Linked DNA regions of Homo sapiens: all the other regions are reported to be linked to region 5. The links are microRNA targets in miRTarBase. Many come from high-throughput screens and were not tested one by one. Region 5 holds a microRNA gene; each other region holds the end of a gene's coding sequence.
The links. The annotated mature microRNA hsa-miR-6888-5p reads AAGGAGAUGCUCAGGCAGAU and lies in region 5 at 2,419-2,438, opposite strand. An mRNA with a match to its seed (bases 2 to 7 or 8) in the 3' UTR can be bound and repressed. Matches are read on the target gene's strand: a 7mer-m8 pairs with bases 2 to 8, a 7mer-A1 pairs with bases 2 to 7 and ends in A, and an 8mer does both.

Region 1: the mRNA of FUT1 is a reported target of hsa-miR-6888-5p. Seed matches in the 3' UTR shown: 7mer-m8 at 1,311-1,317 and 7mer-m8 at 1,634-1,640.
Region 2: miRTarBase lists PSMD11 as a target of hsa-miR-6888-5p. Seed matches in the 3' UTR shown: 7mer-A1 at 2,334-2,340 and 7mer-m8 at 2,034-2,040.
Region 3: the mRNA of MDFI is a reported target of hsa-miR-6888-5p. Seed matches in the 3' UTR shown: 7mer-A1 at 394-400.
Region 4: miRTarBase lists LRRC51 as a target of hsa-miR-6888-5p. Seed matches in the 3' UTR shown: 7mer-m8 at 915-921.

What each region holds. Positions count from the first base shown.
Region 1 is chr19:48,746,530-48,750,720 of GRCh38, reverse strand. It overlaps FUT1 (fucosyltransferase 1 (H blood group)), which reads left to right. Exons shown (of 2, transcript NM_001384359.1): 2 at 1-2,710. The coding sequence ends at 537. It overlaps IZUMO1 (izumo sperm-oocyte fusion 1), which reads left to right and starts at 3,812. Exons shown (of 10, transcript NM_182575.3): 1 at 3,812-4,191. RefSeq lists enhancers at 2,746-3,531, 3,532-4,191.
Region 2 is chr17:32,479,878-32,484,068 of GRCh38, reverse strand. PSMD11 (proteasome 26S subunit, non-ATPase 11) reads right to left here. Exons shown (of 14, transcript NM_002815.4): 11 at 4,183-4,191; 12 at 3,872-3,923; 13 at 3,438-3,580; 14 at 750-3,316. The coding sequence ends at 3,438. Among named protein-coding and RNA genes, the nearest start is that of CDK5R1, 5.0 kb to the left of the region's middle.
Region 3 is chr6:41,653,300-41,657,299 of GRCh38, forward strand. MDFI (MyoD family inhibitor) reads left to right here. Exons shown (of 5, transcript NM_005586.4): 5 at 20-945. The coding sequence ends at 276. Among named protein-coding and RNA genes, the nearest start is that of MDFI, 17 kb to the left of the region's middle.
Region 4 is chr11:72,095,311-72,099,310 of GRCh38, forward strand. It overlaps LRRC51 (leucine rich repeat containing 51), which reads left to right. Exons shown (of 6, transcript NM_145309.6): 6 at 69-1,585. The coding sequence ends at 210. All of the region lies in intron 5 of LRTOMT (leucine rich transmembrane and O-methyltransferase domain containing), which reads left to right. It overlaps LAMTOR1 (late endosomal/lysosomal adaptor, MAPK and MTOR activator 1), which reads right to left. Exons shown (of 5, transcript NM_017907.3): 2 at 3,801-3,946; 3 at 3,471-3,548; 4 at 2,979-3,105; 5 at 1,982-2,604. The coding sequence ends at 2,512. Among named protein-coding and RNA genes, the nearest start is that of LAMTOR1, 6.0 kb to the right of the region's middle.
Region 5 is chr2:159,185,087-159,189,277 of GRCh38, reverse strand. It overlaps MIR6888 (microRNA 6888), which reads right to left and starts at 2,443; the gene lies at 2,377-2,443. It overlaps TANC1 (tetratricopeptide repeat, ankyrin repeat and coiled-coil containing 1), which reads right to left. Exons shown (of 27, transcript NM_033394.3): 15 at 3,379-3,487; 16 at 2,254-2,376. RefSeq lists a cis regulatory region at 3,591 and an enhancer at 3,507-3,676.

The DNA of each region.
Region 1 (4,191 bases), not on the chromosome of region 5:
CACGACCACCTTCGGGAAGAGGCGCAGAGTGTGCTGGGTCAGCTCCGCCTGGGCCGCACAGGGGACCGCCCGCGCACCTTTGTCGGCGTCCACGTGCGCCGTGGGGACTATCTGCAGGTTATGCCTCAGCGCTGGAAGGGTGTGGTGGGCGACAGCGCCTACCTCCGGCAGGCCATGGACTGGTTCCGGGCACGGCACGAAGCCCCCGTTTTCGTGGTCACCAGCAACGGCATGGAGTGGTGTAAAGAAAACATCGACACCTCCCAGGGCGATGTGACGTTTGCTGGCGATGGACAGGAGGCTACACCGTGGAAAGACTTTGCCCTGCTCACACAGTGCAACCACACCATTATGACCATTGGCACCTTCGGCTTCTGGGCTGCCTACCTGGCTGGCGGAGACACTGTCTACCTGGCCAACTTCACCCTGCCAGACTCTGAGTTCCTGAAGATCTTTAAGCCGGAGGCGGCCTTCCTGCCCGAGTGGGTGGGCATTAATGCAGACTTGTCTCCACTCTGGACATTGGCTAAGCCTTGAGAGCCAGGGAGACTTTCTGAAGTAGCCTGATCTTTCTAGAGCCAGCAGTACGTGGCTTCAGAGGCCTGGCATCTTCTGGAGAAGCTTGTGGTGTTCCTGAAGCAAATGGGTGCCCGTATCCAGAGTGATTCTAGTTGGGAGAGTTGGAGAGAAGGGGGACGTTTCTGGAACTGTCTGAATATTCTAGAACTAGCAAAACATCTTTTCCTGATGGCTGGCAGGCAGTTCTAGAAGCCACAGTGCCCACCTGCTCTTCCCAGCCCATATCTACAGTACTTCCAGATGGCTGCCCCCAGGAATGGGGAACTCTCCCTCTGGTCTACTCTAGAAGAGGGGTTACTTCTCCCCTGGGTCCTCCAAAGACTGAAGGAGCATATGATTGCTCCAGAGCAAGCATTCACCAAGTCCCCTTCTGTGTTTCTGGAGTGATTCTAGAGGGAGACTTGTTCTAGAGAGGACCAGGTTTGATGCCTGTGAAGAACCCTGCAGGGCCCTTATGGACAGGATGGGGTTCTGGAAATCCAGATAACTAAGGTGAAGAATCTTTTTAGTTTTTTTTTTTTTTTTTTGGAGACAGGGTCTCGCTCTGTTGCCCAGGCTGGAGTGCAGTGGCGTGATCTTGGCTCACTGCAACTTCCGCCTCCTGTGTTCAAGCGATTCTCCTGTCTCAGCCTCCTGAGTAGATGGGACTACAGGCACAGGCCATTATGCCTGGCTAATTTTTGTATTTTTAGTAGAGACAGGGTTTCACCATGTTGGCCAGGATGGTCTCGATCTCCTGACCTTGTCATCCACCTGTCTTGGCCTCCCAAAGTGCTGGGATTACTGGCATGAGCCACTGTGCCCAGCCCGGATATTTTTTTTTTAATTATTTATTTATTTATTTATTTATTGAGACGGAGTCTTGCTCTGTAGCCCAGGCCAGAGTGCAGTGGCGCGATCTCAGCTCACTGCAAGCTCTGCCTCCCGGGTTCATGCCATTCTGCCTCAGCCTCCTGAGTAGCTGGGACTACAGGCGCCCGCCACCACGCCCGGCTAATTTTTTTTGTATTTTTAGTAGAGACGGGGTTTCATCGTGTTAACCAGGATGGTCTCGATCTCCTGACCTCGTGATCTGCCCACCTCGGCCTCCCACAGTGCTGGGATTACCGGCGTGAGCCACCATGCCTGGCCCGGATAATTTTTTTTAATTTTTGTAGAGACGAGGTCTTGTGATATTGCCCAGGCTGTTCTTCAACTCCTGGGCTCAAGCAGTCCTCCCACCTTGGCCTCCCAGAATGCTGGGTTTATAGATGTGAGCCAGCACACCGGGCCAAGTGAAGAATCTAATGAATGTGCAACCTAATTGTAGCATCTAATGAATGTTCCACCATTGCTGGAAAAATTGAGATGGAAAACAAACCATCTCTAGTTGGCCAGCGTCTTGCTCTGTTCACAGTCTCTGGAAAAGCTGGGGTAGTTGGTGAGCAGAGCGGGACTCTGTCCAACAAGCCCCACAGCCCCTCAAAGACTTTTTTTTGTTTGTTTTGAGCAGACAGGCTAAAATGTGAACGTGGGGTGAGGGATCACTGCCAAAATGGTACAGCTTCTGGAGCAGAACTTTCCAGGGATCCAGGGACACTTTTTTTTAAAGCTCATAAACTGCCAAGAGCTCCATATATTGGGTGTGAGTTCAGGTTGCCTCTCACAATGAAGGAAGTTGGTCTTTGTCTGCAGGTGGGCTGCTGAGGGTCTGGGATCTGTTTTCTGGAAGTGTGCAGGTATAAACACACCCTCTGTGCTTGTGACAAACTGGCAGGTACCGTGCTCATTGCTAACCACTGTCTGTCCCTGAACTCCCAGAACCACTACATCTGGCTTTGGGCAGGTCTGAGATAAAACGATCTAAAGGTAGGCAGACCCTGGACCCAGCCTCAGATCCAGGCAGGAGCACGAGGTCTGGCCAAGGTGGACGGGGTTGTCGAGATCTCAGGAGCCCCTTGCTGTTTTTTGGAGGGTGAAAGAAGAAACCTTAAACATAGTCAGCTCTGATCACATCCCCTGTCTACTCATCCAGACCCCATGCCTGTAGGCTTATCAGGGAGTTACAGTTACAATTGTTACAGTACTGTTCCCAACTCAGCTGCCACGGGTGAGAGAGCAGGAGGTATGAATTAAAAGTCTACAGCACTAACCCGTGTCTCTGTAGCTTTTTTGGAGCCAGAGCCACTGTGTATGTGTGTGTGGGTTTGTGTGTGTGTGTGTGTGTGTGTGTGTGTAAGAGAGTGGAGGAAAAGGTGGGGTACTTCTGAAGACTTTTATTTTTTTTTAATTAATTTATTTTTTTTCAGAGATCGAGTCTTGCTCTGTGGCCCAGGCTGGAGTGCAGTAGTGTGATCTCGGCCCACTGCAAACTCCCACCTCTCGGATTCTGGTGCCTCAGCCTCCCAAGTAGCTGGGACTACAGACGTTCGCCACCATGCCCAGCTAATTTTTGTATTTTTAGTAGAGACGGGGTTTCACCATGTTAGCCAGGCTGGCCTCGAACTCCTGACCTCAGACAATCTGCCCGCCTCGGCCTCCCAAAGCGCTGGAATTACAAGCGTGAGCCACCGCGCCGGGCCCTGAGGATTTTTATTACTCGTGATTGGGAGTACTGTCCCTACTTAGATCTGACAGCCCCTTGTTGCTGGACTTGTGTGAGTTGTGGTCCCTGTTTTTCTGGTTCCCTGTTTCTATCACACAGGAGAGAGAGACCTTCCAGGACCCTAACGTCTGAGCCCCCAGTTGCTCACTCCTGGACTGTCAGTATTGGCCCCCAGTCCTCTCCTCCCACTGGGACCTCCGCGTGGGCAGAAGAGGCGGAGGAGGGAGCGGATTATCACTGAACTACATTTCCCGGAAAGCTATGAGGTTGGCAGCGTCAGTCAGCTACAGAGAAAGAGGCCCCAGGGCATTTTGGGAGTTGTAGTCTTAGGGCTAAAATGTCCACTTCGTGGCTCGACAGCCGTTTCCAAGGACCGCGGTGGGGGCGGCAGCGGCCTGGGGGGCCGGATCTAGCCCAAAGCCTGGGTCCTGGGGCAAGGGGAGGGGAGGAAACTGAAGGCCTGAGTCCGGTCCTTGACTCTGGAAGCCAGAGTAGTCAGGAGGCTTCCTCTTCCCTAGATGCTGGGAAAATTCTAGTCCAAAAAGGCTGCAGCCTCTGTGACGTCATGGAGCGATGGGCGGGACCTCCCTTTGTTGCAGTCCAATCAGACAGAGTTGAGTTTCTGGGTGGGGCCGAGGAAAACCCCAAGGAATATCTATAAAGGAATTCGGGCCCCTACGTGAGAAGCTCGGAGGGGGTGGTTTCAGGAGTTCCTTGTGGAGAGGGGATCGTCCGTGACTCAGACCCCGTCGAAAAGCTCTCGATTTCACGCAACCAACCTTACCCTCGTCCCCAACACAATCCTTGATTTTACCCCTGGGAAAATTAGCGTAGGTGGTCATGACCCCGGCTTCCTCTTTAAAAGCCCTCAGAACCTGGACCGGGCTCCTCAATGAACCCTAGTGTTAGAGGCCACAAATCGGGAACCAAGGTCGGGGAGCGGCTGTTTAGGGTGCATCACTGTTCAGGATGCATCGGGGCTCCTTTTTCTAAGCGGAAGGGTGCGCCCTGCAAATTGGGAGCCCGTT
Region 2 (4,191 bases), not on the chromosome of region 5:
AAGCAAGGAAGAAAGGACAGTCAACTGCCAGAAATGGCAGAACCAAGGACCCAGAAGGCAGACCCAGTTGAATGAGGCAGAGCTGTTTTCTTCCTAGCTGCCTTCATCATAGAACTGCAGGGAAGATTTCCAAATCCCACCCCCATCAATCAGCCTACTTAGCCTATTGCCTATCTCTAGCTGCCTGAAGGGCCAGCCTGCTTGTTAGCTTCCCTGCTGGGCTGGGCTGCCCGTGGACTGCCGGAGAGTCCACTCTTCCTGCATGCCCCACTTCCCATAGCATCCCGAGGGAGGGAGGTCAAGGCGGGGGCCAGCTACAGCTTCCAAGAAGGGTTCCAAATAGAGCAGGCCTGAGCCCTTACTCCTGAGGAAGTCGGCTTTGTTCTTTCAGGGATCACAGAGCAGCATCTAGTGGCCCTTCTGAGCAGCACAGATTACATAACTAGCACACAGCAGGGGACCAGAGCCTCTGCTCCCAACTCCAGTAGAGTCTCATTAACACACAAGAAAGTCCTGGCACCATGAAGGCTGGAGCCCAGAAGGGAGGTGAGGGAGCCGGGCCCAGGCCAGCCCACCGGCCAGCTGACCTTCCCAGCTGTGCCTGGACTCAGGTCATGAGAGGCCTGGGAGAGGAGGCAGTGACACAACTGCTGGTCCTGGAGGTCTAGAGCTGCGCTGTCCAGATAGAAGCCACATAGGTAACTTTATATTTTCTAGCAGCCACATTACACAAGTAAAAGGGAAACAGGTGAATTTTAATAATATATTTTATTTAACCCAATACCCAAAATATTTCAACACATATATAAAAAAGTTATTGACATATTTTACACTCCTTTTCTTTTGTTATCATACTAAGCCTTCGAAGTCTGGTTTGTGTTTACACTTGCAGTGTATCACAGCTCGAACCAGCCACGTTGCAAGGGCCTGACAGCTGCACATGGCTAGCGGCTACATATTGGACAGCACGGGTCTAGAGGGCATCATCTGACCAAGACCCGCAAAGGGAACTGAGAAAAGGGCTACTGCCTGAGCATCTCAGGACTGCCCTAAGTTTGAGAAAACATCTCCCCTCTACTCCAAAACTAGATCTCTTTGGAGTACTTTTTAAAGTCCTTTATAGAAGCAAAGCTCTTTCTGCAAGTGAAATACAGAGACACAATACTAAAACTGACAATGGCTGAACTGCTCAGACTGAAGAGGATTTAGCAGGTCCCCCAGTGGTCCCAGAGCCCCCCGCCCCCGCCAGGGTGTGAGGCAATATGAAAATCGCTGCCTTTGAAGATTCCAAAAGGAAACGAAACCACAACTGCATGTCAGGACTCTCCAGACACCTGCACGTCTATGACTTACTAAGCTTCACATCACAATCACCTGCCAAGGAAGCAGCATCCTCACTGAGTAGAAGAGAAAGTAGGCTCAGAGGATCTACTGCCCAAACTTACATGTGCTCACTGGACCATGCTGCCCTGGAAGAAGACACCTGAACTCATTTCCAACCTCAGAACTCACACACCAACTTTCTTGCCCCCAAAGCCCTCCAAGTTTGGACCCCAAATTTACCTTAAGGACTCCCATTACACAAATGAGATAACAGCTTTGGCCAGATGAGAGCTAGACTAGTGTGGGGCCACACAGAGCTGTCTGGACTTGCTTGGAAGCCCTCCAGCACTCAAGAAAAAGACACCTTTTGAAAAAAAAAAAAATTATTTTTATTGGAACTCATCTGAACATCAGATATACCTGGTGTTGGTTAGCAAGAACCGTTTGTACATTTGATACTGATGGTGCCAAAACCAAAACAGTGACTAGACATGATGGGGAAAGATGTTGAGAACAAAAACCTGATTTTGGAGAGGAAAATAAAAGCCAGTCAGATTCAGTGAGGATGCAAAACCTGGTACAACAAAATCCTTTTACAAAATATAAATTTATTATGAAAACCTGGAAGGATAATCCAAGGAAGGTAAAGAAAGAGAAAAGGAGGCCAGCAGAAGAAGGCAGGAAGGAGAGGAAAAGAGAAAAAGACAAAGAGGAGATGAGAGAAGAAAATACAGTTCAGCACAACAGAAGTGCAGAAGCTCACCTACCCAAATGGCATTAAAGCCTCGCTGTGTAATCGTGTCAGAAAACAAAGCATACTGACACATAGTGCTCTACTTCCCATCCACTTGAGTTCTAAGAGGTAAATTAAAAAGCTCCCTGGGAAGGGGACATGAGGTTGCTCAAAAACCCAACAAAGAAAATTAAAAAAAAAAGAGAGAGAGAAACCACACCCCACAGTCTCATTTCCGATGTTCATTGTTTAAAAAAGGAATAAATCCATCTGAAAGTAGGAGAGGAGGAGTGGGAGAGGGAGAGAAGCTCATGGCTTTCACAGACAGCCTGACTCCCCTGGAGGGGAGAGGAGGAAGGCAGAGAGACATGATGGTCTCCTGGTTGAGAGGGGAAAGAGAAGGGACAGAGAGGAAAGAAGAGAGGAGAGGAATGCAGGAGAGGAGAAGAGGGGCAATTAAAACACTGACGACTAATCTAGTTTACTGTGTTTAAAAAAAAAAAAAAAGCCACATGCATAGCAGGCCCCTTGGGGGCTAAGGGCCCACACTGCTCCCTGTGTGGCCGTGGTAGACACTAGCTCCTGGCCTCATCCCCATTCCTTCACAGGTCAGAGTGGAGCTATGCAGGCGCTGCTGCTGCTGCTGCTGTTGTTGCTGCAGTGGTGGTGGTGGTGGCGGCGGCGGCAGGACCTTCGGCTACTCTGCTGGAGCCAATGTGGGGAGGGAAGGGCAGACAGGCCGTATGGTAGGGGAAAGAACACCAAAATGCCTCATTTCAAATAAAAAAGAAAACAGCAGTCTATACACAGTTGTTTGTTTTGGTTCAGTACAAACAGAATAAAAAGTCATTGCTTTTGATGGTCAGCAAACACCCAATTCTGAGGAGGAGGAGAGGTGATGCCCAGCAGGTGGATTAGGACCCCCAGTGGTTGGCGGGGTGCCTGGCTTTGCGGCCCTCTCCCAGGAGGCAGAGAGCACAGCTTTAGGTAGTGTAAGCCTTTTTCCTTTTATTTAGAATAATCTTTTTTTTTTTCTTTTTCTTTTTTTTTAAGCAATTTCCCCACTCCCAAGTTGGGCCAGTAAAGATTACATGAAAACTGGCACACCTATTGGCTGGAATACAGATGCACCAAATGAGGATTTAAAAACTTTCCGAGCGAAAAGTAGAACAAAAAGAAAAAAGAATCTCCTAGCATTTTCCCCCAAGGTTTCACTCTCCCGCCACACACACTCTCCAAAGGACCGCTACAGATCCAACTCTGCAAGAGAAGACAGAGCAGTGTCAATCAGGAAGCCATGAGGACACCAGGAGGAGGTTTTCAGTCTCGACACGCAGAAGACAGAGCTGCCCAGCCCTGGGGTCCTGAAGCCAGCACTCACCTATGTCAGTTTCTTGGCTTTGTTGTAGAGGGAATCCACTACTTTGCTCATGTTCTGAATTGTTTCCAGAGCAGCTTCGTAAGTTTTATCTACTGGGGGTTCATCGAAAATAATCAGGACACCCTCCCCCTGGTCCAAAATCCCTGCAAGAAACACAAGGGCAACCCAGGTAAAAGATGAGGTTAGACACAAAAGTGTTTGTGAAGCAGCCCACTCCCTAGTTGACTCACTGTGTCCAGAAAAGAAGGGAAATAGAATTCATCTCCCTATTCCATGTACACATGCTTATTACACATTCTCATCACAGGGAAGAGGGGCCAGGACCCCAGGGTGAACCATCGGGGGAAACAAATAGAACATCTTCTTTGAAAATAAACTTCTTCAACCATCTCATCACCACCACCAGCCCCCTTGCCTGTGTGACTGTTACTTACCATGAAATTTCTTGTCAAGAATCATCTGTGATAATTTCCTTTCCACGTCGGCCTAAAATCAAAGCACATGATTAAAGGGACCAGTATCCACTAGTCAGAGATCACCCTGACACAGTAGCTTTGTTGGAGGGGTCTTAGGCCAAATGGACTGAAAACAAAATAGCAACAATGCAACTCCTACTCTAGTCCACACTGCCCATTCCCCACTGAGAAGCTGGGGAGCTTTCCAATGAGGCCAATCAGGTGCATGTGCCACCCCTCCTCGCCACCCCGTCCCATTCCTCCCTGCAGATGGCCTTAAGACTCCTTACCTTGGAGAG
Region 3 (4,000 bases), not on the chromosome of region 5:
CTCCACCGCCACCCCGCAGACTGCTGTGTCCACTGCATCCTGTCCTGCCTGTTCTGCGAGTTCCTGACGCTGTGCAACATCGTCCTGGACTGCGCCACCTGTGGCTCCTGCAGCTCGGAGGACTCGTGCCTCTGCTGCTGCTGCTGTGGCTCTGGCGAGTGTGCCGACTGCGACCTGCCCTGCGACCTGGACTGCGGCATCCTGGATGCCTGCTGCGAGTCCGCGGACTGCCTGGAGATCTGCATGGAGTGCTGTGGGCTCTGCTTCTCCTCCTGAGCCTCTGTCGGGGGCTAAGCCAGCCTGGCGCCCCTGCAGATTCCAGCAGGGTCCCTCTGAGTGGGGCCAGGCCCAGGACTGTCACACAAGGCTTGAGAAGCCCCCTCTCCCTGGTCCTCTCCTACCCACCCATGTCCTCTCAGAACCCCAGCCTTGAAAATAGTGGGGGGCACTCAGAGGGGCCACCTCCTCAGCCGTGGGTGGTGGGCCCATGGCAGAGAAGCCTGAACTCTTTACTGGGTTACCAGGTTCATACATTGCTGAGGACCTGACAGGACAACCTAGGGGCAGGGCTGGGGTGGGGACCGCAGGGGGCAGCCAGGGCTGGGGAACACTGTGAAAGTTACTTGGGGAGGGTGGGCCGGTGGGGCCGTAGCTCTCTACCTCTCCCTGCTCCTGGTGCCTGCCTCTCTCCTCCACCCCAGGCTTAGAGGACAGAAAAATGTGAAGAGACGCCCCACCCACCCTCAGCCAGCCCTCTCCAGTCTCCTTTCCTAGGCTTTTTTGGGGGCCTAACCCACGCAGTGACCCCAGAGGGCAGGGCTAGGCGAGAGCCTGGGGTGGGGCGGGAGGGGGAACAGTATGGAAAAGACTGGAAGGGGAAAGGAAGGGAAGGGAGGGAGGGTCTGTTCTATCTGTTGCTGTAAATAAAGATATTTGTCCATCTCAGATTTCCTCAGGACTCATGACTAATTGCCATGGACCCTGACTCTCAAAAGCAAACGCCCCCTACCACCGCTAAAAAGCACCCACATGGGTGAGGCTGCCCTGCCCTCTGGGGGCCCTGCCTCTTCTGCTTTCTTACCCCAGAAACTGCCCTGCCCTTCACGTTCCCCTCCCTTCTTCATGTTTCCCACTAAGGGAAGAAGGTTAAGGGGGTGCTGTCTCCCACCATTATTTCCTTCTTCCCACCAAGGGGAGGGGAAGCCCAGAGGGAAGAGTTAACCTTGGCATGGAATTAATTAACAGCAGATGTGTTCGGGTTTTGATTAATTAATCTCCTGCTGACTTCAGCTTCTCCAGCTCTATCCCATGAAGTCGCTCCAAGGCATAGGTGATGCCCATGACAGTGCCAGAGGGGTGCCTGGGAGGGGGCTACTCCAGGCCTGGGGCAGCCCAGACTTGCCCCTGGGCTTCACTGGAGGCCCAGTGGGGGTCACACACCCAGCCTCAGGCATCCCCCTATTGCCAGGCGTCTGAGAAAGAAGGAAGCCTTGTCAGGACTGCATGGGCCCCTACGGCCATCTGTGGGGCGGCCTTGGAGTGCAGAGGGAAGGGCCTGAGAAGCAATGGCGGCTGTGAGGATCGCAGGGCCGCACTGGGGGCAGCTGGACCAGCACCCCCCACACATATCCTGGACCTGGAGGAGGCCAGGAGAGGTCCAGGGGGCATGAGAGGCTCTGGGACAGTTGGGGCAACTTGGAGAACACTCAGCTGATGAAGGCCTTGAGACGGGGGCTGCAGGGGTATTAGTGGGCACTGCTTCCAGGAATGAAGGCTTGGAGTGGTTCCGAGGGATTCTGGAAGGAAGGAGTGGGGACTGGGGAAAAGGGCCAGATGAAATCCAAACTCTCTTAAGGAATGTCACAGGAGGGAGCAGCCTATGGCCTTGGGAGTGGGTTTCATTGCAGCAGGAGGAGGAGGTTCTAACAGGCAACGCAAACTAGCCCCCCACCCCCTCCCCACTCCATCTCCACGCACACACGCCTCACTTCACCAGCTTCAAGGTTTTCTGACCTCTGAGAGCACACAAGAAATTCAGGACACAGAGAGGAAGGGACCTGCCTGGGGTCTCACAATCAAGCCGGTAGAGGGTCCCCGAGGCACCCCCAGCACTCATGTATCTATTTGTGCGTATTTTTATATATTTTCTTAGTTATTGCCTGCCCAAGGTACGGAAGGTTTGAAAGTCTGATCTGTGCACACACAAGCATTTACATGTATGTGTTTTCTTTTTTTACGAAGATGTGAGGATCCTGTACACACTGCACTGTACCCTGTTTTTCCCACCTGGCCATGTCTTGGGGAGCTTCCTTCCCAGCACATGGAGAGCTGGCTGAGTTGCCCTGGATGGATGCGCCACAGTCCAGGGACCCCCAGCTCTGCTTAATCCGCTCTCAAGCGCTTTGGTACAAACCAGGCTGAGCGAGGCACACCCTTTTGCATGAATGAGCTGTATCGGCAGAATGTTCGTGAATGTGGGATTGCTGGACCTACCATTGACAGGACTGCCTGGCTTTCCTCTGTGAGGGTGTTCCAGCCTCGGCTCACTCAGCCTCGGGGGCATCCACTTCTCCCACTGCCCTCGAGAGACAACGGTGGGAGGGTTTCCCATTCAGTCCTCAAGGCTGGGGTCTGAAGGGCGTTAGGGAGGCCAGATCAGGGGGTGAAGGGGCTCCTGACCAGCTCGATATCTGGTCCAGGTGGGCAGGAAGGCCTGCTCCTGGCCCTCCCTGCTCCGCAGGGCTGTGGCAGGAAGAGGCGCCTCTGCAATCCAAACAGCGATTTCCTGCTGCAGGCTCCAGGCTGTTTTCTTTAGGACAGTGGCTGAAACCCTAGAGGCTAAGCTGGGTTGGGGCGGGACAGGGGAAGGATTTAGCCAGCCCCCCAGCACACACACACACACACACACACACACACACTCACACACTCACACACACACACACTTCACACCTGTATGCACACACACATACACTCACACAGACTTTCCATACAGTCACGTACTCACATACATTCCGCAGGCTCATGCATTCCATCACCCGCACCACACACACACTCACACCACATCTACCCACACACGGACACACACTCACACATTTCACAGCCTGCAGCCGCCGCCACCCCTGGCCAGCCTGAGGCTGGGCTGTGGAGACTCATGCCTATCCATTCAAGCTTCGTCCCACACCTGCCCTGCCTTCCTCACCTCCCTGTCTTTGCCCAGGTGGCCCTGATCCCTGCCGGGCAGCAAATGGCAAAAGCCCTGGCTCTGGGCCCTTCCCTCTCCTCATGGTCTACCACAGGCTCCCAGGCTCTGCTTTCCAACGGCTGGGCTGAGCCAGGAGACAGTTTTAGGCCTGGCTGTGCTGTGGGCCCCGGGAAAGAGGCCCTTTCCTCCCCAAGCCTGTGTGTACGACGGAAGAGTGGGTAGACTGCAGCCACAGTGTCCAGGGAACACCTGCCTCTCTCCAGTCTTCTTTCATCTTTGGAGCAGCAGATCAGGCCACTTTTGCCTGGGAGACATCTTAAGAGGCCACCCCGCCCCCTGGGTTGTCTAAACCAAGGCAAGCACCCCCTGCTTGTGGGAGAGAAGGTGGTGAGGCCAAGTTTAGCCATCTGTGGCTAGTACTGTCCATGACCACTCAGTGATCTTGTGCGCCAAACCTAAGAGGGGTGGCCCCACGGCAGAGCAAGTAGCTGAACCAGGGGGTGGTTTGTGAGGGGAGGGCAATCAGCCGGACCCCTCTGCCTCCATAGTCTCCATCAGCTTCTCCCTGTATTTGGAACTTTAACTGGCATAGCCTGTTCTCATACTCAGAGCGGGGCAAACTGAGCTTCAGGCCCCATGGCCTCCATGGCTCCAGAGCTGCCAGGACAGAACACCGCTAAGCAGTTCTGACACTGGGCTGAGCAGGTCCATCCCTGCCCCGTGCCATCACCCTCAACAGCTTCACCTGCTCCCCAGGGTGATGGTCCGGTTGTGGGGGCTGGGGCTGGTCTCTGGGGT
Region 4 (4,000 bases), not on the chromosome of region 5:
AGCAACTAGTGGAGGGGGAAGGGGATTCTGGTGGGGGTGCTGGCCCCCAGCCTAAGTCTTCCCCACAGGCAATATGTGCTGTGCACCCTGTCCCGTATCACCACGTTCGACTTCAGTGGGGTCACCAAAGCAGACCGCACCACAGCTGAAGTCTGGAAACGCATGAACATCAAGCCCAAGAAGGCCTGGACCAAGCAGAATACACTTTGAGGCTCCCACGACCCTAGTAGTCCTAAAGGCCTAAGCATAGACAGCATGGTTTGACAATAAATAATTTGAGCTGTTGAGCAGATGAGAAGTCACTTACACCTTGTAGAGATGTTCTCTAACTCAGGCAACTGCAAGTAGCTCTAGCCTTTTCTTTTCTTTTTTTTTTTTTTGAGACGGAGTCTCACTCTGTCACACAGGCTGGAGTGCAGTGGCACGATCTTGGCTCACTGCAACCTCAGCCTCCCAGGTTCAAGAGATTCTCCTGCCTCAGCCTCCCCAGTAGCTGTGATTAAAGGCGCCTGCCACCATGACTGGCTAATTTTGTTGTTGTTGTTGTTGTTTTGAGACGGTTTCACTCGTCACCCCAGCTGGAGTGCAGTGGTGCGATCTCAGCTCACTGCAACCTCCGCCTGCTGGGTTCAAGCGATTCTCCTGCCTCAGCCTCCTGAGTAGCTGGGATTACAGGCGCCTGCTACCACATCCAGCTAATTTTTTTTTTTGAGACGGAGTCTCGCTCTGTCACCCAGGCTGGAGTGCAGTGGCACGATCTCGGCTCACTGCAAACTCCGCCTTCCAGGTTCACGCCATTCTCCTGCCTCAGCCTCCCAAGTAGCTGGGACTATAGGCACCTACTACCACGCCTGGCTAATTTTTTGTATTTTTAGTAGAGACGGGGTTTCACCATGTTAGCCAGGATGGTCTCCATCTCCTGACCTTGTGATCCACCCACCTCGGCTTCCCCCAGCTAATTTTTTATATTTTAGTAGAGACAAGGTTTCGCCATGTTGGCCAGGCTGGTCTTGAACTCCTGACCTCAGGTGATCCGTCTGCTTTGGCCTCCCAAAGTGCTGGGATTAGAAGCGTGAGCCACCACGCCCAGCCTTTTTTTGTATTTTTAGTAGAGATGGGGTTTCGCCATGTTGGCCAGGCTGGTCTCAAACTCCTGACCTCAGGTGATCTGCCCACCTCAGCCTCCCAAAGTGCTAGGATTACAGGATAAGCCACTGCACCTGGCCAGCTCTAGTCTTATTTTGCTGAAAAAGGGAGGCAATTGAGGGAAAGGCCTGCTGGCCTGGGACACTGGAGACGTGGGTTTACCACACAGCCTTGGGAAATTTATCTAACTCTCTGGGCCCCTTTGTACTTTTCAGCTTAGAGATTTGGGGGTTAAAGTAGATCAGTAATTTCCAAACTCTTCACAGAGTACCAGGGTCTGTAGAGATGCCTCACAGGCCTCCATGACAGGCCAAGAAGATGGCCTATGATCTCTGAAACCAGCCCCCACTTCAATCAGATCAAAGTAATTCCATTCTGTTTTATATGCTGGGATTCTGCTTAAGATTTCATTTGATAAAAAGAATCTTCTGCTTAAAAACATTTGCTTGCTGACTCCATATTAGGTATTCCCAGAAGAGCCTGGTCTGCTTTCTCTCTCCACCCCCCAACCCGCCATGTCTCCCTTCACCCCCAGGGGCTGTTGGTAATTCCATTGAGTCTGAGGCAGGGCCCCCAAGAATCAAAGCTGCCTCAGATTCAGGTCTGTTCAGCTTTGACAGTGTTCCCATCATCACTGGACAAGGGACAAGAACAGTCTCATCCAGTCTGAGGTTAGCCCAAGCCAGGTCTCAGCTAAGAGCTGACACCCTAAACCCTTGTCTCTTGGGTTCATCTTCAATATCCCTGGAAGATGTCCCCTTCCCCCCATCTTACTCTCATAGACCTAAGTAATCAAAAGTAGAATGGGTAGAACAGAGGGGCCAGAACCAGCACATGGATGAATATACTTCCTTTATCGAGGGTGACAAACCAAAACAAAAAAAGACCAAACATGTAAAAACCCAGGGTTCTAGAAATACAAACTCAATTCATTCAAATTCAAGCTCATCCAGACCCTGGTCACAAACCCTAGTGAGGTGCATGTGAGCACCAAGTCAGGGAGAGGGGGCAGGAGTGACTCTGAGGCCAACAGAGAGGGTGGGAAGGGGATCTCCCTAGGTCCCCTGGTGATCACCCCCCACCCAAACTGGTATCTCCACATTCTCAATGACTATGAAGACATACCAGGCTCTGTCCTTTTGGCCCCCACCCCATCCCTGGCCAGAGCTTCAAAGGCCAGTCCCAAAAGGTTCTACCCTCACTTGCTCAGGCTTCTAGCCTTCCTCTTCTCCTCCTTCTTCACATTTTTCTCTGTGATTAGTAGCAGGTTAGGGTACTGTATAAGCCGCAGTGAGGCTGGGGGCCAAGGGGGTGGGGTAGAGATGGGATGAAGAGAGGAGAAGAGCTGTCCAAGGACCCCTCTCTTCATGGGATCCCAAACTGTACAACCAGCTCCTCTTTTGCGTCCACACGGATCTGAGAAAGTGCACTGTAGGCATAAGCAGCTATCCTGGAGACCTGAGACAGAGAGGGGCCGGGGAGGAGAGGAACAGAGACAGGTGAGGAGGGCAATCAGGAAAAATGGGGAGGGGAGATTAGATGGTGATGGAGAAGGAGGGAATGAAGGGGAACAGGAAGGCAAAGAGAAAGACAGGGATGGGAGAGACAGAAGGAAAAGAACAAAGGGGAGTGAAACAATAAAGGTTGCAGGAAGGAGATAGGAAAGACATAAAAAGTTAAGAGAACGAGGTGGGAGGGAGCTGGGGCCTACAAGGCTACCAGGCTCCCTAACTCCACCTTCCCTACCTCCTCTGAGGCAGAGTGGGTGAACCCTCTGCCATACCCTGGGCAGTGTGAGAAGGGTGGGCAGGGGCAGGTGAGGGGTGTCTCACCTGCTGCAAATCAGAGAACGGGATGGGCTCACTGGCCAGCACTTGGTGGGGCTGGCTGGTAAGAGACGGCAGCGGTGGCAGCTTCTTCCAATGGGTCAGGCTGCTGCTCAGCACAGCCAAGCGGGTGCTGACCAAGAGAGAGGGGGTGGGGGTAGGCAGTTAAGCCACAGTCTGCCCTGCCCAGCCCAGGTAAGCCTCATCCCCTCAGGCCAGAGAAGCAGGGTGTCGAGGAGGGGTATCTGGGAGGGAAGGTCTCAGCTCATCACAGACTCAATCTAGGCCCATCTCCCTTGGCCTCAGCGCCCTCAAGAGTGTCACAGGGTAAACAGGGCTGACATGAATAACTACTGAAGCACCCAAGTGATCTGTGGTCAGTCTCCAGGGCTGCACCAAATGAGAAGCTTGGACTAGGGGCCAGGCTCCAAAGCTGGAACAGTGATGGAGGGTGGGAGCCCAAGTAGCCTGAGGGACCCACGCTGGCCAGGTGCTCACCTGTACTGCCTGGCACGGTCCATGTACTCATGCTGCTCCATGCCCTGTGAGTCTGCAGCAGACACATCAATGATGTTGCTATGGGGAGAGGAGACAGAGATGACATGACAGGTGCTTCCGAGAAGGACAAACAGGACTCAGTGCCAGGTACCAACTCCAGGGCTATCTGACACCAGTTTCCCTCCTGCCTACTGGAGCAGGGCTGGACATGGAGGCACCTCTCCCCAGTGACCTTGTCCCATCCCCCATGTCCTGAGCCTGGCTCCTTCTATCCTAGCCTTTAATATGGATAGAGGAGCTCTGACCCAGGCCTGGTCCTCTGACACTTACCTGGCTGTCTTGGCAAGGATGGAAGAGAGCAGGGCCTGCTCATCAGTGCGAGCGGAAGGCAGGCTGTGGTAGTTGGGCTCGGCTCCATTGAGAGCTTTGGTAGGGGGGCTGCTAGGGTCCAGCAGCAGCTTCCGCTCCTCTCGGTCCTAGAAGTGGTCATGGGAGAGAAGTCAGCCCCAGGACCCGTAGATCCTGCCTTT
Region 5 (4,191 bases):
GTCGGCAGCTCCTGTTAACAAGCACCAACTGGCACATCCAAAACTTCCCAGGTGCCTACAGCAGAGCCACTGTTTCCAGAGATGAGGCAAAGCACTAACAACAATTCATGTAAACATAATAAATGCCAAGTATGTTCCCAGTACCTTTAACATCTCAGTAAGGTTTCTCATCACTTGAGAGACAGCCTCTTTTGTGTCTCCACTTTATAGGTGAGAAAGCCAAGGCTCAGAGGGAGTAAGGCCGAGCTGAGCGCTAAGCACAAAGCTAATGATGGTCACAGAGCAGCCAGGTGGCAGAGCAGCAGTCTTGGCTGAGACGGCACTGTGCTGAAGGAACCTGTTTAAATGATTCATCCTATAGATTTTCCCCCAACGATATGGAAATTTTCCGACCATGATCACAGAAGCCCTCCTTGGACAACACTCAGAAGTGGTGGTATCTCTCAACTTCTGGATTTAATGAAAACAGGAAAACAGGAAGGGAGCTGGGGATATGCGAGGCAATACGATCATGAGGACCAGAAGAGGCTTGGCCAGGGTGGCCATAGGGCAGCATCAGCATTCCCACTAAGTACACTGGAAGCTCACACAAGCACAATTGTTTTAAAATGTGTCCTTCCTGACTATGATGTAGGATATGACTGGATCTCCCGGCCAAGGGAAGTTGGGCCAAAGGCCACACCTAGCTCCTGTTCTCCTCTCCTTTCTGTTGTCAGCTGAGAAAAGAACTGCAACCTAAATCCTCCTGAGGCCACAGCTTGCGGCTGGCCACCAGTCCTATGAGATGGTACAACAAAACCACTGGCTGGATGGGACTCCAGTGGGCCAGCGGGGCCCAGGCTGGCCCCATCCTGGCCTGGCCACAGGAGACAACATGGTTAGAGACTGCTGGCATGCCACTGCAACTAAAATCCATCTACCAAGTAATCATCCCAGAGCAAGTCACTTTAATTTACCAAAGTGGCAAACTGCAATTATTGTTCAAAATGACATTCATTCCTGTATGACAACATTTAATACACTCTAAAAAAAGTTCCTTAATTGCATGCATAATTTAAAATTACTGTAATTTGTTCAAGATCCTGTGAAAACCGTTTTCCCCCCTTGAAAGATAAAAGAAACAGAAGGATAATGAAAAGACTTAAGATTCTATAACCACATTATAGAAATAATTTCGGAGATGGTGTAGATGTAGGTGACACTGGAGTTTTACAAAACAAAGTAAAAATGATTAACTCTTAAAATCGCACATACGTTAAAGAGCAAAGTTTATAATCTCAGGAGGGCCATGCTCATTACACTATTATGCAGTACCTTTAAATTTACTGTCTTAAAAACTTGTACTCAACAGATGTTTCCCATTTACTTATTTCCATATTAAAATAAATTCTATGCCCAGAAATTCATTAACATATGAAAACATATTGCCATTTTTATTCTCATCTTTCTTATGATTATAGAATTTTATTAGTTATGGAGAAGCCGAGAGATACACTCTTAGCTGAAATGAAAGATGAAACAATGTGAGTGATTCGGGGGGAAGACCTGGCTCCCTAAACTGACCCAGGGCTTCCACAGGCAGCCGGGTACATCAGGGCCTGAAGCTGAAAGGCCTGGACACTGTCTCTGTGGCCTTAACAGGCTGCTTGGCCTCTGTGTGCTTCAGATTCCCAGGCTACATGAAATCAGGAAGAAAAATCTACCTTAAAAAGCTGAGTGGAACATCATGACATGAAAGCCACTGACCAAGAAGTGAAGAAGCTCTTGGCTCCACAGAAGGCCATGCTGATACCCTTTCCATAGGCAGAAATATGGATACATGAAACCTCGATGTTTGTTTTTCTGTGTACTTATCTCTATGCATCACCCATCCATGCTTAATTTCCCATGAACTCTGAAGAGATGGTCCAGATTAGTAACGCAGGACACTTAAAAAATCCGTTTTCCCTAGAAATCTCTCTGATCTTTGATTTCTTTTGTAAATTGCTTCCTTATCACATCTGCTGTGAAACAGTCACCACATGTGCTCAGAGCAGCCCTGACCACCCACATCTTCCTGCCAAAGAAAAGCTAAACTTCTGGAAGAACGAGTAATACAGCACCCAAGCCCGTGTGATCAGGGAAGCACATCTTTAGAAGCTCCTCTGCGTCCTCTCACCACCACCCAGGGCAGAGGGAAACAGGGCTGTTGGAGGAACGGCCAGCAGCCGGCCAGGGCTGGGTCTCCGGCTCTCTGTGCAGAAGGTTGCTCACCTTCACGTTGGGAGTATAGAGATTCCTGAGAGAGGCCAGGGCGGCGGACAGCCCCTCGGTGCTGTAGCCGATCCACAGGGCTTGGAGATGGCTTGAAGAAATTCCCGTCTTCTTACTGAGGCCCTGGAAACAATCGAGACAGATCTTGGAAACAATCAGAGACAGATCTGCCTGAGCATCTCCTTCCCACCTGCAGGGTCACTCTGAAAGTGGGTCTGCCGCAGAGGGTGCAGATACCTGCAGAAGGCACGGGGTCACACACAAAGAATGCCTGGACATGCGAGCTTTCACTACCTGAAACCAAGGGTCAAGGAACCAGCCTGCCTTCACTAGGTTAACTTTGTGCCTTGGGAGAGAGATGGCAGATGAGAGTTTCTCTTTGAGTCAGAGTCTTGCTGTGTCGCCCAGGCTGGAAGTGCAGTGGTGCAATCTCAACTCACTTCAACCTCCACCTCCCAGGCTCAAGTGATTCTCATCCCTCAGCCTCTCAAGTACCTGGGATTACAGATACATGCCACCACTCCCAGCTAATTTTTGTATTTTTAGTAGAGACAAGGTTTTACCATGTTGGAAGTAAATTAGAGGAAGAATAAATGACAGAATTAGAATATCACCATCTGAGCCCTGCAAGGTGGAGCGTGCCTATAGTCCCAGTTACTTGGGAGGCTGAGGCGGGAGGATGGCTTGAGTCCAGTAAGCTATGATCCCACCACTGCTCTCCAGCCTGGGCAAACACAGTCAGAAAGTCCAGGTGGTACAAAATCACACAGGTCAAGAAACTCAGGTTCTCGAACAAATCAATAATAAGGAAACAAAAAGTAATGAACAAAGTGGAACCTTTAGATAAAAAGAAACTTATCAGAGATTTAAAGGTGGAAAGAAGTAAAACTTAAGCACAGCACTCTGATATACACTTGAGCAATCAACTATAGCAAAATGCAAGGAAATGCCCAGGCTGAGTCAGAACAGCGGTTACTTTTGGAGAGGGGAGGCAGGAGGAGGTTGCATTTGGGCTGAGGTGCATGGAGCGTTTCTTGGATGGCTGACAGAGCTGTCTAAAATCTCCAAAGCAAAACCTCAAAATGACAACAAAGAAACCCTTCCCCAAGTTGGTGTGCATCTCACCTTGAAAATGTGCGCCTTCAGGATGTGGTGGCCAAGCTCCATGGTCTGCTGGCGGTTCAACTTGCCCTCCTGACGCGAGAACATGAATGCCAAGAGCGCGTGCCCGTTCCTAGGGGAAGGAATACAAAGGCTCACAGCAGAAGAGCCCATTCCACCACACCGCAGACCCACCCTCAATTCACCACCCATTGCCTTAGTCACTGATTTATGCCCGTGACAAAGATGTAAACTCCGGGAGGCTAAGGGTCTCATCTGAGTCATAATGCCTAGCAAAGTGCTGAGCACTTGGTGAACACTCAAATGTGTTTCTGGAATGCATGCATGAATAGACACAGAGCACAGAACCATCCCTGGGCCTAGCCTTCAGGTCCCCTCAGGATCACCACCACTAGGGGTAGACAAAGGACAAGGTCTCACGTGGGAAGGAGAGAAAAGCCAGGCCGTGCTAGGTGACAGCTCATGATCAAGAAAGCAGAGAATTCTAGGCTTGGATGGCACACAAGTCCTTGTGGTGAGAAGAAGGCTAAGGCATCTAAGTGGGTTTGCTGTGGCTGGCACATGGTGGACATCCAGCCAACAGCACCCATTTCCCTTTTGTGAAGGTACCATCCTGCCTATTTTCCTGCCCATTTCCCTTTTGTGAAAGGGCCATCCTGCCCATTTGCCCTCCATGTCCATAGGACTCACTCTGTCTTCCTGTGGATCCCATGCCTTTGAGCCAATTAGTTTCTAAATGACACACAGAGTTGCTTATTCCAATAGGAGTGACTTCTATGCAATGTAAATTACTTTCATTTCTATCATCCTGTCAAC